Regions from separate parts of the Homo sapiens genome. Here region 1 is linked to region 2. A link means that fine-mapping ties the variant in region 2 to the expression of a gene that starts in the linked region. Tissue or cell type: whole blood. Region 2 holds a variant in brackets; the other region holds the start of a gene. All regions are shown on one strand. Distances are from middle to middle.

What was found. PIP is the estimated chance that this variant, and not a neighbour inherited with it, causes the effect.
Region 1: ULK2 starts here. The variant in region 2 is fine-mapped to the expression of ULK2 in whole blood (INTERVAL, PIP above 0.99).

Annotation. Positions count from the first base shown.
Region 1 is chr17:19,864,089-19,872,211 of GRCh38, forward strand. It overlaps ULK2 (unc-51 like autophagy activating kinase 2), which reads right to left and starts at 3,848. Exons shown (of 27, transcript NM_014683.4): 1 at 3,240-3,848; 2 at 1,648-1,740; 3 at 715-756. The coding sequence starts at 3,329. RefSeq lists an enhancer at 2,965-3,473 and silencers at 3,052-3,231, 3,312-3,901.
Region 2 is chr17:19,779,971-19,787,970 of GRCh38, forward strand. ULK2 (unc-51 like autophagy activating kinase 2) reads right to left here. Exons shown (of 27, transcript NM_014683.4): 21 at 5,967-6,116; 22 at 3,727-3,935; 23 at 1,919-2,097; 24 at 1,016-1,134; 25 at 502-659. Among named protein-coding and RNA genes, the nearest start is that of ALDH3A1, 36 kb to the left of the region's middle. The variant G/T (reference allele first, on the strand shown) is at 4,582.

The DNA.
Region 1 (8,123 bases), 84 kb after region 2:
TTGAGCCCAGGAGTTCAAGACTAGCCTGAGCAACACAGAGGGACCCTATCTCTACAAAATAAAAAAAATGTTTTTTTAAAAAAAGAACTTCTATTTAGGCGGGGCGCAGTGGCTCACGCCTGTAATCCCAGTACTTTGGGAGGCCAAGGTGGGAGGATGACTTGAGGTCAGGAGTTCGAGACAAGCCTGGCCAACATGGTGAAACTCCATCTCTATGAAAAACACACACACACAAAATTAGCTGGGCATGGTGGTGCACACCTATAGTCCTAGCTACTCGGGAGGCTGAGGCAGGAGAATCGCTTAAACCCGGGAGGTAGCAGTTGCAGTGAGCCGAGATCAAGCCACTGCACTGCAGCCCAAGAGACAGAGTGAGACTCCATCAAAAAAAAAAAAAGCTCTATTTTTAATTGTCCTTTCAACATTCATCAGAGAATGCTAGATCTGGTATCAACAGTCCTCTACTTCACCTAAAACAATGCTACACCTATAGTGTATTATCAATTGTTAATAAACTTACTCATGCAGCAAATTCTTTCAGCCTATTACTCTGTTCTGTTTTAAACAATTTCTTAATTCAGAAACATGTAACTCAAGCTATGCATCTTTTCAACAAGAATTAAGGTCATTTTTATTTCTATTAAGAGTCACTTAAATCTGTATGAAATTAAAAAAAATTTATTTTAATTTTTAAAAATTTTCAAAATAAGGTACCTGAACATCATAGAGTGCTACAATATTTTCATGCTGAAGTTCCTATTAAGAAAATTGAGAATGAAAAATATGTAAGTATTCTAATGACTTTACTATATTTTAATATGTAAATAAAATTAAAGTATACACATACACTTCTAGTATTATACTTATATTAAGACTATAAAAATTCAATTAAAGAATAAGAAATGTGCCTGATCAAACAAAAAGCACATTATCTCACTGAAAGAAAATATGATTTTTAGCTCAAAGAGCTACAATTCTTAAAAAAGAGCTCTCCACAGGAAGCAGTTTTGAGGAAATCGGGTGTTAAATGAGGGTTCCACGCTTGTATTAGTTTGGAAAACACCAGGTTAAGTACTTTGAAACAAGTTTCTTCATTGTAGAATTTTTCAGACTTTCTTTAATGAGCCATAGGCTTTGTGACTCTCCAAGAAGTATTTAGTAAATGGGGTTTTCCAAACGTACTCAACCATCTTCTCAAACCATCCCACTTAGATAACACTGGTTGTGAGTGATCTAAAAAGGCCACCTCCAAGGAATATAACTTTCTTCAATTTAAAGAAAGACCCCAAGCACCCCTACTCCCCCCAAAAAACTTAGTAGTAACATGAAAGGGGACAACAGGAGAGGTAAAAACAATGTACAAGATGGGTCTGCCTGGCCCTCTTCTCAAACAACAACACAGTCACTAGGAAAAAGAGAAATGATGAGAAGCTAAACTCAGTCTTCACAGAATCCCTCTGAGCTTTGGTTCTTAAAAATAGCTTCCGAGTACTCAATGTTTTAAAAAAGTGAGCATGCAAAAAGGAGAGCAACAGTTGAAAATTCTCAAACTTGGACCCAACTACCAAAATTGAAAAGGATGGCAGCATGTATTCATTTAAATTAAGTTTTAACCTTATATGAATACTACTACATAAAGTAACATACCTTTAAGATTTTAATTTCCTTTCCAAGCAGTATTTGTGATTTTGACAAGTTCTTTTTATTAATACTTTTAATAGCTACCTCCCAATCAGTTTTCTGAAAAGGAAAAACAGTGTTACTCCTAGATACCATTCCACATAAATAACAGAAAAAAATTTACAAGCGCGAAGGTGTTTTTGGCAAATAAATGTACGGCATTGGGGAAAAATGGAATTATTTTCAATAATTGGAAAGTGATTTCATAAATTATAGTGCAATATGCCAAGATCCTACAACACAACTTCTAAAAATAACAAATATGAAGTCCACATGGTAACTAACATTAAATGAAAAAAGAACAGTTCACAACCACTTCAAAGTTATGGACAAATGTAGAAATAAACTTGGAAGGTGATACAGTTAATTGAAAAGTTATTTGTTAGCTTGGAAGGATTACACCGTGCTTGAGTTCTAAATTATTTTCCTAATAAATGAAAAGTAGGCCGGGAGCCGTGGCTCACACCTGTAATCCCAGCACTTTGGGAGGCTGAGGCGGGCAGATCGGATCACCTGAGGTCAGGAGTTCAAGACCACACTGGCCAACGTGGTGAAACCCCATCTCTACTAAAAATACAAAAAAAAAAAAATTAGGCGGGCGTGGTGGCGGGCACCTGTAATCCCAGCTACTCAGGAGGCTGAGGCAGGAGAATCGCTTGAGCCCGGGAGGCAGCGGTTGCAGTGAGCGGAGATCTCGCCACGGCACTCCAGCCTCGGCGACAAAGCGAGACTCTGTCTCAAAAATAAATAAATAAATAAATAAGAAAAGTAGCATTACTTCATCCGATAAGCAACAAAGTCAGCCCACTTTTAACACGCCCCTTGGGCAACAATCAGAACTGCCACACCCTTTAAGATTATTTCCACTCCCGATATGCCTTTCCAAATTCTTTAGATTCTAAAACCTCGTGTAACTGTACTTGCGAAACAGCAAAGGCTTAAAACAATTTTTTTAAGGCTTAAAGGTGATTTCATGTTCAAGGTGATTGAAAATGAATTGTCCAACCACCTTTCTCACCCGGAGCTCGTCTATCTGACTCCGGGGGGGAAAACGGTACGGGGGCTCTTCGGGGTGCAGGGGACCAGTGCTGGGAAAGGTGACACCTCCCAGGCTGCGAAAGCCTGAGGCTAATGGGACATCCGCCCATTTTCCGCTGGGTCTGTAATTATCAACCTCAAAAGTGACCAGCCCTGGGCACGGGGAAAAAAACCAAAGGTCCATTCACGCCCAACCCTCGAGTCTGCACGGTGCAGTACCGTCTATTTTGGGTCCAGGGTAACCTGGGTGCAAACGCTCCTGCGGGCGGACCGCGGGGTGGGCCCCGGGCACACAGGAGGATCAGCAGCAGCCGGTCGGTAGGCGGAGCGCTGCCAGAGGCTTGGGCCTCACAACAACCCTCACAGGACCAAAACAAACGGCGAGACGGGCTGCGCGCACAATAGCATACCCGGGCGGCTAGCCGAGTCGGGGGTCTCGGCTCGCGGCTGCGCCAAGTTTCAGAACCACCTAGCCCCGTGCCTGCCGCCCGGGGCCCGGCCTCGCCCCGGCCGGCGCTCACCTGGCGGTGCCGCCCCCGGAAGACCACGGCGAAGGCCCCGTGTCCCACGAGATCCCTCTTGCTGTACTCGAAGTCACCCACCACCTCCATGGCCGCGCCCCCGGGGCACACAGCGGACGGGCGGGCGGCGCAGTGCGGCGCAGGTATCAGCACCGCGGCTCCGCGGGCCCGGAGCGCGCCAGCGTGCGGCGGGTCTGGGGCAGCCGCAGCCCCGGGCCCGGGCGGACTCTCATGCCGAGAGACCGGAGCGGAAACTGGGGAAGCTGCCGCGCGGAGCCAGGGTCAGCGAGGCCCGGCCCGGCCCCTGCCGCTCATGGCCCGGCCTGCCGCCGGCCGCTGGCTGTCTGGCGAAGCGGCCTCGGCGCTGCCGGGCCAGGGGTGCCGTCACCGTCACTGTGCGCGCCCAGAGCCGCACACGCGCTCTGAGGCAGTGAGGGGCCCGGTACTCTCCATCCCCAGCTCGTCGGGCCTCCTCGGCCCTCCCCGCTCGGGGCGCTGCTGCGACGGCGACGGCCGCCGCCCTAGAACCCGCACCGCCGCGGCCCCGCGCTTCCCCGCCTCGCGGCGGCGCCCAACGCCCTCGCGCGCGCTACCCGCTCCCGCGCGACTGGCTGCCCTCCGCGACGTCCGCGCGCCTTGAAGGCCGCAGCGCCAGCCGGCTCCCTCCGCCGGGGAAAGGAGTGCGGCCAGGGCTTGGCGCCCGCAGCTGGGCAGATCCTCGGCCGCTCCTGAGGCGGGGACGAAGGGCGCGACCCGCTGCGGCCACAGCGGGTTACGGGCTGCGGGCTCCGTTCTGGGCCTGGGGAGCAGATTCGAGCCGACCACGCCCCGGGCTCCAGGCCGCTGGGAGGCGGACTTCAGAGAAGCGGGTCTTGAACCCCAGCTGCAGGCAGGACGGGATTATCTGCGCAGGGTAGACCCCCAGATTCCTGCCAGAGCAAAGGAGCAACTGCTACTCCAGGCTTTGCCCGCGCTCTGGAAAACCAGAGTTCACGCTGCCAAACTGCCAGCCTTCGGACGCCTCTCGGGGTTTACTCGCTTAGGATCCCTAGAGGGACGGTGACAGGCGGGATTCTGCACCTTTTGGGGGTCCCTTGACTGCGAGAAGCTGGTGACAGCTCAGGGCCCTCTTCGCAGAGAATCGTTTCTGCACACCGACTCAGAATCGCACACGTTTTCAAGGTTCTCCTGGGAGCTCCTAGTGTCAGGCTAGTTTGACCTCGGGCTTACTTCACATGGCCGAAGGGAGCTTTCTTTTCTACCTGATTGTTAAAGCTGTCCAAGTGACAAGGAACAGATTGTCAGGTTTCCCGCAAAGAAGTGTCTTATGAAACCATTTAATAAACAATATGCTTGAAACTACCATGGAATACGCAGGCTCCACACTTGAGTGTGTGTTCGGTTGTATAGGGTATGTGCTTTTGGGGTCTGTCACCACCTCGACTGCCACTGCCTGTCCCTGCAAGCTGATCTCTGAACCATGACAGAGTCAGCTCCAGGATTCTGAGAGAACGCTCCTTCCTCACACGCTCAAAACGTAGGGCCTTGAGTTTCTGCTTCTGCTACTGTGCACGCTTACGTTATCCTGTCCTTACTTACATCTGGCCCAGGTGGTTGTGTTAGACACTGAAAATCTGGAGCCTTCAAAAGTTGACAGCAACTTAAGCAAGTTTGCACATACACCCAAAAATGGATGGAGATGATTCCTTACCTCACTGAAAGATTCTCTACAGTCTATTTTTTTGTTTACTTTTTTTTTTTTTTTTTTTTTTGAGACAGAATCTTACTCTGTCACCCAGGCTGGAGTGCGGTAGCACAATCTTGGTTCACTGCAACCTCTGCCTCCCAAGTGCAAGTGATTCTGCTGCCTGAGCCTCCCAAGCAGCTAGAATTACAGGCACGCACCACCACGCCCAGCTAATTTTTGTATCTTAGTAGAGATGGGGTTTCACCATGTTGGCCAGGCTGGTCTCAAACTCCCAACTTCAAGGGATCAGCCTGTCTCGGCCTCTCAAAGTGCTGGGATTACAGGCGTGAGCCACCACGCCCGGCCTGTTTTTTGTTTTGAGACAGAGTCTTGCTCTGTTGCCCAGGCTGGAGTGCAATGGCATGATCTCGGCCCACTGCAGCCTCCGCCTCCTGGGTTCAAGTGATTCTCCTGCCTCAGCCTCCCAAGTATCTGGGATTGCAGACCTGCACCACCATGCCCGGCTAATTTTTTTTTTTTTAGTAGAGGTGGGGTTTCACCATGTTGGCTAGGCTGGTCTCAAAACTCCCAACTTCAAGCGATCCGCCCACTTCGGCCTCCCAAAGTGCTGGGATTATAGGTGTGAGCCACCTCACCTAGCCACATGAAGGTTTTTTGTTTGTTTGTTTGTTTGTTTTGAGACGGAGTCTTGCTCTGTCGCCCAGACTGGAGTGCAGTGGCACGATCTCAGCTCACTGCAAGCTCTGCCTCCCGGGTTCACGCCATTCTCCTGCCTCAGCCTCCGGAGTAACTGGGACTACAGGCACCCGCCACCACGCCCGGTTAATTTTTTGTATGTTTTTAGTAGAGACGGGGTTTCACCGTGTTAGCCAGGACAGTCTCCATCTCCTGACCTCGTGATCCGCCCACCTCGGCCTACCAAAGTGCTGGGATTACAGGCGTGAGCCACTGCGCCCGGCCACATGAAGGTATTTTTCAGAAACCTCCAATAGGCCCTTCGTTTGGACATGCGTGTCCTGTATTCACAGGCCAAACATGGGCCCCATGGACATATCCATTTGAAAAGCAAAATGTGCAGGATTTCTGACCTCAAGAGTCAGAAAAGAAGTGGGGGCAGGAGGCAGGGGGTGCTTTGCTAAAAAATGTTTAGTTAGGACTATGTTGGTAGCAAATAGCAAACGTCAAATGTGATAAAGTGAAAAATAAAGAATGTAGATAAAGATACAGGTGTGCTTCTCAGAGTTCAAAGTTGGGCTTCAAAAGCAAACTACCCGCAGAACCAGGATCTCAAAGAGAACTGCCTTCCGTCTGTGCCCCTGCTTTGTTCTCTTGCCTGAGATCTCCTACATGGTGGCAATGGCAGCCCCAGTCTCCAAACCAAATTTTTTTTTTTTTTGAGACGAAGTCTTGCTCTGTCGCCCAGGGTGGAGTACAGTGTTACGATCTCGGCTCACCGCAACCTCCGCCTTCCAGGTTCAAGCGATTCTCCTGCCTCAGCCTCCCAAGTAGCTGGGATTACAGTTGCGTGCCACTGCACCTAGCTAAAATTTTTTTTGCTTTTTTAGTAGAGGCGGGGTTTCACCATGTTGGCCAGGCTGATCTTGAACCCCTGACCTTAGGTAACCCGCCTGCCTCGGCCTCCCAAAGTGCTAAGATTACAGGCGTGAGCCACTGGGCCCAGCCACCAAATTCTTAAGGAGGGGATTCTGATCAACCTAACTTCAGCTGGGTGCTGGGCCCTGAACAATCATCGGAAGCCAGGAATGGGACTGAGGAAGGCAGGATCATGTAACTATGGCTGCCCCCAACACAAGCCTGTGGGTGTTCTGAGTCCCCAGAAGCAGGGGCCACATAGGCACCCCAGGAAGTGTTCACCCTAGGTCAAATTTAGGCTTCATTTGAGAATGGAGGCCAGGGCAGATTTCTAGTTTACCTCTAAAATCACTGGAAATTGCCAATTTGATTCATGTTCATTGTTCTTAATTTGTCCTGTGTGTGCATATGCATGTGTGTCTAAACATGCTTAACTGTTGAAATGTTTCAATACCAGTTAGTAAATAGAAAAACAGTAACTGCAATGAGAGGTAAAATTAATTACTAATATAGGCCAGGCACAGGGGCTCACGCCTATAATCCCAGCACTTTGGGAGACTGAGGTGGGTGGATCACCTGAGGTCAGGAGTTCCAGACCAGCCTGGCCAACATGGTGAAACCCCATCTCTACTAAAAGTACAAAAAGTAGCCGAGCGTGGTGGTGTGTGCCTGTAATCCCAGCTACTCGGGAGGCTAAGGCAGGAGAATCACTTGAACCTAGGAGGCGGAGGTTGCAGTGAACCAAGATTGCACCATTGCACTCCAGCTTGGATGAGAGGAGCAAAAATCCATCTCACACACATGCACACACACACACACACACACACACACACACACACACACTAGCCAGGTGTGGTGACATTCGCCTGTAATCCTAGCTACTCGGGAGGCTGAGGCAGGAAAGTTGCTTGAACCCGGGAGGCAGAGGTTGTGGTGAACCGGGATCGCACCACTGCACTCCAGCCTAGGTGACAAATGAGACACTGTCTTAAAAAAAAATTAATTACTAATATAAATTCTAATATAAACTGTTTAGTTTATCATCCAGTGCTATAGAAATGTTCTGATGATAAAAGGTATCCTGTGAAAATAAATGTGAGAAATATTCTGCTGGGCAGGGAGGCATTCCAAGATGCAGGAGAATAGCCAGTTTATTATTATCTTCAAATTACATCATTGCTATTCCTTCTATTTTGGTTCTATTGTTTCTACTTTGATGACATTGCTGATGCTTTGAAATTCTTGTGAATAGTTAGGGTGCAGTGCTTTGATATTTATAAATGCAAGAATTTACAATAAAATACGAAAAATAAGCACAAAAAAGGAAGCAATAACAAATTTTTAGTATGTTTTTTAAAGTTTTAAAAAATACCATAATGACAAATCTTCTGAATAATAAATGTAAATTTTCTGAAATGATATCAGTAACAAAGTTCAGCCTAGGAATATTTTGATGCAATGCAAAAAACAAACAAACAAACAAAAACAGCAGGGAGCATCTTTTTATATTGTGCAAAAATCAGTATAAAATTTGGCCAGGCGCGGTGGCTCACGCCTGCAATCCCAGCACTTTGAGAGGCCGA
Region 2 (8,000 bases):
GGAAACCACCCTGGCCAACATGGCAAAACCCCATCTCTACTAAAAATACAAAAATTAGCTGGGCATGGTGGCAAGTGCCTGTAATCCCAGCTACTCAGGAAGCTGAGGCAGGAGAATCACTTGAATCTGGGAAGCAGAGGTTGCAGTGAGCTGAGATCGTGCCACTGTACTCCAGCCTGGGCGACAGAGTAACTCCGTCTCAAGAAAAAAAAAAAAAGAAAAAAAAAAGATTAGATCATGCCTAATGCCAGCAATGTTTAATAAGAGCTGTAATAAACTTATAGCAAATGTGGTAAACGGATTTGTAATTACTTAAAATACATCCAGTAAATGACATTAACAGTTGCTTAAATCCAATTACTTCTTTAGTAGAAGGCAATCCACAATACTTGGGACTTGAGACATTATCTTTTAAAAGGATAGCTGTCATATAGATATTCAATTAAAAAGACACTTAAAGATAAGTAGTACTATACAATATTAAACCTTAGAAAGGGTTACCATTTCTACAGCACAATTATAGATGAGTTTCTCTGCAGTCACACTGTTGATTTCATCAATAAACCTCTGTTTGTCAGAGAAGAATCGATTCAGCTTTTCTGTAAGTTTCTTGCACATGGTGATGCAGAATTTATATCGTTCGTTCAGATTCTTGACAACTGAAAAAAAATTGAGATGGGAACTAATTTTAATTTTCCTCCAGAAATAAAGACACAGTTATATGTATCTTTCCTGCTGATATATAGGGAAGGTGTCACTATGTGATCATTCAAAAAAAGGACCAGAAATAGGATTTTTTCATGTTATCTCTTTCAATATGAAAAGATTGAGAATAATGCACTTCAGACTTCTATCAATTGAACTGCAAAAAGCTAACAACCCAGCATCTTTTCCCTTTAAGAATACTGAAAAATAAAAACAACAGTGAGTACTCATCAGACACTCTCTCACAGTGTGATGGGAAAGAGCAACTTAAGGACTGACCCCTGGAGTTACACGCTGCCTTCTCCCATACCTTGTTTCACAGCTGTGGATGGGCTCAGTTTCCCGGACTTGATCTGGGCTTTGGCAAGATGCAGAGAAGCCGCAAGCAGCTGTGCTGCTTTCATGTACAACACCAGCTGCTCCACCCGCCTGCACCCAAAAGACAGTAGCAGAGGGTTATCTTGTGAACTAATGTAAGATGTGGCACTCTACACAACAGGTCACCATTAAAATTGCCTTTCTATAAAGGAATAGCATCCTCTTTGATTTCTTTTCTTCTTTCTTTTCTTTTTTTTTTTTTTTTTTTGACAGAGTCTTGCTCTGTCCCCCAGGCCGAAGTATAGTGGCTTGATCTTGGCTTACTGCAGCCTCTACTTCCTGGGCTCAAGGGATCCTCCCACCTCAGCCTCCCGAATATTAATAGTTGGGACCACAGGGACGCACCACCATGCCCGGCTAATTTTTGTATTTTTTGTAGAGACAGGGATTCATCATATTGCCCAGGCTGGTCTCGAACCCATGGGCTCAAGCAATCCTTCTGCCCCATCCTCCCAAAGTGCTGGAATTACATATAGGCATAAGCTACTGCGACCAGCCCTCCTTAATTTCTTAATGCACAAGTAAACTCTCAAGGGACAAGGCATAGTTAAAGATGTGTGTACTGTGAAAATAACGGATACACTCAGATAAAAATCAATACAATCTATTTACACAAAAGAACTTCAACAGTATAATTTACAAGGAAAGGCAACACTGAGGTTGCATAATCTCCAGGTCTTGGCTCATATAGTGAAATGTAGTACAAAGAAATAATTGAGACTCCTAGCTTTTAATAATGAGATATGATCTTCAGTGGATGACAATACCTACAACTTAGACACAAGTTTAGACAAAGCATGAAAAGTCTGGAAATGAATGACAAGGGGGCACCCACCCCCAGTCTTTGCTCAGCTGACTGATCTGGTCCACCACCACACTCTCCTGGATCTGGTACAAGGACACAGCAGATGTGCACAGCTCAGGGTTTCCTCCCCTCATGGCTGTCAGGTCCAGCACACACTCAGTGAACATCAGCATCACATTCAGATGGCGTAAGGTGTCTGTGTGTTCCCGCTGCAGCAAAGTCAATTTGTCTTAGAAAATTTCAGATTAAAAATACGTACATACTCATTTCTGTACATAAACCATGGCCGCTGATCATGTTTTCTATACTTATGAGTATCAGAATGACAAAAGGAGATTGAAATTTTTAAATTTCAGAAAGCTGGTAAGAAAATGAACACAAATGAAACCAAATATAGGTATATGCATGTGTTTGTGTATGTGTATCAGAGTACCCACATAAGTAAACTCAGGATGGGTCGCTGTGCTTTTACCAGAAAAAGAAAAGAAAGCTGAACGATTAAATCAATATACATGAGACAAAAACGTGACAAGGTAGACACAAAGATTACAAGGATACTATAGGTGCTAAATCACACTTCTTGATACTGTATTGAATTCTGCTGACTTCTTATAATTTCAGAGTTGCTTTATTTAATTTCTGGTCGTTTTTCAGTTAACAGTGATTACTAATACCAAAGCTCTAACTTTCTGTGATCTTTTCAGTTAGTTAAAGAGGGGAGTGTGGGTAGACATAACAGCATTCAGAGGGCTGTCATTTAAAAATGGGCATTCTAGGCCGGGCATGGTGGCTCATGCCTGTAATCCAAGCACTTTGGGAGGCCAAGGCGGGTGGATCACCTGAGGTCAGGAGTTTGAGACCAGCCTGGCCAACATGGCGAAATCCCGTCTCTACTAAAAATACAAAAATTAGCTGGGCGTGGTGGCATGTGCCTGTAGTCCCAGCTCCTCAGGAAGCTGAGGCAGGAGAGTGGCTTGAACCCAGGAGGTGGAAGTTAGAGTGAGCTGAGATCGCACCACTGCATTCCAACCTGGGTGACAGAGCAAGACTCTGTCTCAAATAAACAAACAAACAAACAAACAAATAAATAAATAAATAAATGGGTATTCTAGATTGTTGTTTTGAGATTTGTTTTTAGTTATAAATGCATTCTGAAATCTCAAGCCTAAAAGTTTCCCACTCTTTTATGGTTAAATAAAGATGAGAATCATTTTCCTAGTGACAGGAGAATAAGCCAATTGACTTCTAAAAGTCTCTCTGCTCTGTGACAGCATATTGCACTGTATGTTTCAATACACTGGAACATGCAATAGAATGTACTAGAATGCTCACGCCTGTAATCCTAGCACTTTGGGAGGCAGAGGTGGGCAGATCACAAGGTCAGGAGTTCGAGACCCGCCTGGCCAACATGGTGAAACCCCGTCTCTACTAAAAATACAAAAATTAGCCGGGCATGGTGGCGTGTGCCTGTAATCCCAGCTACTCGTGGGGGCTGAGGCAGGAGAATTGCTTGAACCCAGGAGGCAGAGGTGGGAGTGAGCCGAGATTGCACCACTGCACTCCAGCCTGGGTGACAGAGCAAGACTCTGTCTCAAAAAAAAAGAAAGAAAGAAAAACACAGAATCTATGTGTTTCTTCCTATAAACCAAAGCTTATTATGGATGAGTGTCACTGTCAATGTTAATTTAAAAAGACATCAGCAATACTTTTCAAACAGAAAAGGCACGTTAAAGAGAACATAACTTCCTAACTATTTAATGTATTTTGTTCTTGTCATCACTAGAATGTTCTCATATCAAATCAACATTACATTCACACCACTATAGTCTCTTTTCTACCTCCATCAGCGTCTCCTCCGGCAGTTCAGGGGCTTCAAAGGTGATGAGCCCCTCTAGGCTGGGGGGTGAAGCACCGTAAGGCACGTATCTCAGGCTGGGAGCTGCCTCTGCTCCTGGAGGGGAAGAGCCGAAGCCTGGGCCAGGCGGGGACCCCACGCACACGCGGCCACTCATGGCACAAAGAGAGCCCCCGGAGTTGCTGGGCCCCACTACAAGGAAACAGAGGATACATGGCAGTGTCCAGAGTTAGGGCTTTCACACCCACTCCTACTCTTATTTACTAAACAAACCTGCTGAGGTGACAAAGGAAAGTTTCGTTAAAAGAAACTCACTGACCCCCTATGTACTATTTGAGGATATTAATAGTTTTTACTTATCCATGTTCATTGTTATTCCTTGTCTATATATTTTATATTAGACATCATCAGAGCTAGTTTTTTTATACTCTGTTTTAAACAAATTTAGATCATATTCATTTCTCCTTGCTGCTCCACAGGGCCTCATAATTATAAAACTCAATGGATGCACTGATTCATTAAATTTATATATATTATATAATGTTTATCTGGAGTCATTTATACTATTTCTGATTTTATTCATATTACAAATAGCACTGTAATGAAATGCAGACAGTTGTTCCTTCTTTTGAATAATTTCTTTGTGATAAATACTCTGAAGTGGTATAAGAAGGAATGGAATTAGCATAGATCAATAAATATTTTTACAGCTCTTCCTAAGAACTGTTATAGTACTCTCTAACGCAGCCCTGAGTAAGCACATAGATCCTACTAAACCTCAATAACACTGGACATGATACTTTTTTTTTTTTTTTTTTTTTTTTTTTTTTGAGTCAGG[G/T]TCTTGCTGTTGCGCAGGCTGAATTGCAGTGGCGTGATCACAGCTCACTGCAGCCTTGATTTTCTGGGCTCAGGTAATTCTTTCACCTCAGCCTCACAAGTAGCTGGGACTATAGGCGTATGCCACCATGTCTGGCTAATTTCTGTATTTTTTTTGTAGAGATGGGGTTTCACCATGTTGCCCAGGCTGGTCTCAAACTCCTGACCTCAAGTGATCCTCCTGCCTCGGCCTCCCAAAGTGCTGGGATTACAGGCATGAACCACCATGCCCAGTCTTGGGCATTGTACTTTTTAAGATATAGGTATAGTTAACAGATATAAAATGTTACTTTCGTAAAATGGTATTTTCTTATTATTCAAGGTTTTTAATCGTCTTAAAAACATAATTTTAGATCTATTTTCTCTTATCTATTTCTATCCTTTGCTTATTAACCTGGTCTCTTGATCAGCAACTTATTTAGAATAAGATAACTTGACTCATGATACAACAGATAAGACATCAAATTATTGATTTCAAGTCCAATCTAAATACTTTCTTAAGTTTTGGTATTAACCTATTTACAGATTATAAATGATAAATCTATTAGCCTTCTAACTGTATATAGGATTAAGTGCAAAGATTGAGACCCAAAGTACAAAAAATTAAAAATAAATAAATAAAACAAGTTTCTTTCTTTTCTGAAACAGAGTTTCGCTCGTTACCCAGGCTGGAGTGCAATGGCGCAATCTCGGCTCACTGCAACCTCCACTTCCCAGGTTCAAGTGATTCTCCTGCCTCAGCCTCCTGAGTAGCTGGGATTACAGGTACCTGCCACCACACCTGCCTAAATTTTTGTATTTTTAGTAAAGACAGGTTTTCACCATGTTGGCCACGCTGGTCTCGAGTTCCTGGCCTCAAGTGATCTGCCTGCCTCAGCCTCCCAAAGTAAGTGCTGGGATTACAGGCATAAGCCACCTCACCTAGCCAAAACAAGTTTCTTTAAAAAAAAAAACCAAAAAAAAACCAAACCTATAATTTTCAAATAATTTATTGGATCTACTAAAGTAACCCTTTAATATATAAGCTGAGAAGAACCATATACGATTTGCTTCTTCACGAAGAAGTCATATTTATACTATATGTCATTTTGTAAAAACATATACAACATATATTTATATTTTAATATATAATATAGCACTTTACAAAGTTTTTTTCCCCACAAATGATGCCTCATTTACTTCTTATAACCCATTAAGATAAAGAAAATAGTAATCTCCATTTCACTGGTAAAGAAACTGAAGCCCAGAGAATTAAGTGACTTGTCCAAGTTACAACACTGAGTCATTTGTCAAAACACTACATTCCAAATACTAGCCAAAGACTGTAATATAACAAATGCTCCTTACCTGAGGTTGTTCTTGTTCGAAGGAACATGTGGGTACAAGTGGGGGCTGCCGCACTGTGTGGAGGAGACCCTACAGTGAAGAGGACAGCCTTGGAACTTGCTGCTGTACCTGCAGGAGGTGCCAGAACACCACCACAGGCTCCTGCCGGAGCTACAACAAAAAGTTTATAGAAGGTCATATTACCCTGATAGTGTTTATATCTGGGAGATGGGATTGCAGGGGGATACTGACTTTTATATCAGGAGTCTAGTGGTTTTTTTTTTTTCCCTCTTCTTACAAAAAGTACTTATTGCTCTTAAAATCAGAAAACGTAATACAATATTTTCATTAAAATAACTTATAGTAATCTCAAGTGTGAATCTTCTTCACACCAAAATTTAGCATTCAGAGTTATGTTTGTATACTTCTAAAATACATGAACTGTAAGTTATACATGTTGAAGACAGTACTAAAAAAATGAACGCCAAGAACTGGGAATAAAAACAGGTTAAACTAGGGTAGGTGTGGTGGCTCATGCCTGTAATCCCAGCACTTTGGGAGGCCAAGGCGGGTGGATCACCTGAGGTCAGGAGTTCGAGACCAGCCTGGCCAACGTGGTGAAACCCTGTTTCTACTAAAAATACAAAACTTTGCCGGGCATGGTGATGCGTGCCTGTAATCCCAGCTACTCAAGAGCCTGAGTCAGGAGAATCTCTTGAACCCAGGAGGCAGAGGTTGCAGTGAGCTGAGATCATGCCACTGCACTCCAGCCTGGGTGACAGAGTGAGGCTCCGTCTCAAAAAAAAAAAAAAAAGAAAGAAAAGAAATCAAAATAAAGACATTCCCAAATAAACAGAAGCTGAGAGAATTTACTGCCAGCAGACCTGTCTTACAAGAAATACAAAGGATAGCTCTTCAGACCAAAAGTAACTAACTCCAAATAGTAATCCCAATCTGTAAAGATAATTACAAAACACAAACTGTATATTTCTTCTGTTAACTGATTTTAAAAAGCAACTGTATAAAACATGTATACAGTTGCACTGTCAGGTCTATAGCATATAGAAATGTAATGTTCATTTATTTACTTTTTTTTTTTTTGGAGACGGAATCTCACTCTGTCGCCAGGCTGGAGTGCATTGGCACGATCTCAGCTCACTGCAACCTCTGCCTCCTGATTCTCCTGCCTCAGCCTCTCGAGTAGCTGGGATTACAGGTGCGTGCCACCACGCCCAGCTAATTTTTGTATTTTTAGTAGAGACAGGGTTTCATCATGTTGGCCAGGATGGTCTCGATCTCTTGACCTTGTGATCCGCCCGCCTTGGCCTCTCAAACTGCTGGGATTACAGGCGTGAGCCACTGCGCCCAGCCTTAGTTTTTATTTTTTTAGAGACAGGGTCTCCACCTGTCACCCAGGCTGAAGGGCACTGGTGTGACCATAGCTCACTGCAGCCTGGAACTCCTGAGCTCAAGTGATCCTCCTGCCTCGGCCTTCCACAGTGTTGGGATTACAGGCGTGAGCCACTGCACCCAGCCAGAAATATATTTGATAATAAGAACATAAAGGAGTCAGATGGGAGTAAAACTATATTAGAGTAAGGAAGTGACACCAGATGGTAACTCAAATCCACAAAAACACACCAAGATAACCAGAAATGATAAGTAAGAAAGTTAATATAACAAACTATAAATACATACTTGCTTTCTTATCTCAGCTTCTTTTCAAAGACATAAAATTACAAACCAGAGTAAGATGGCAAAATAGAAGGCTCCACCAATTGTACAACCCACCTCCCAAAAATTTGCACACAATAAAGCACCTTCATAAGAACCAAAAATCAGGTGAGTAATCACAGTACCTGGTTTTAACTTCATATCACTGAAAGAGGCACTGAAGAGGGTAGGAAAGGCAGTCTTGAATCACCAGCACCACCCTCCGCCCCTCCCCTGGCAGCAGCTGTGTGTGGCAAGGAAATAATCTGTGTACTTGGGGGAGGGAGAGTGCAGCAATTTGGGGATTGCACATTGAACTCAGTGCTGTCCTGTCACAGTGCA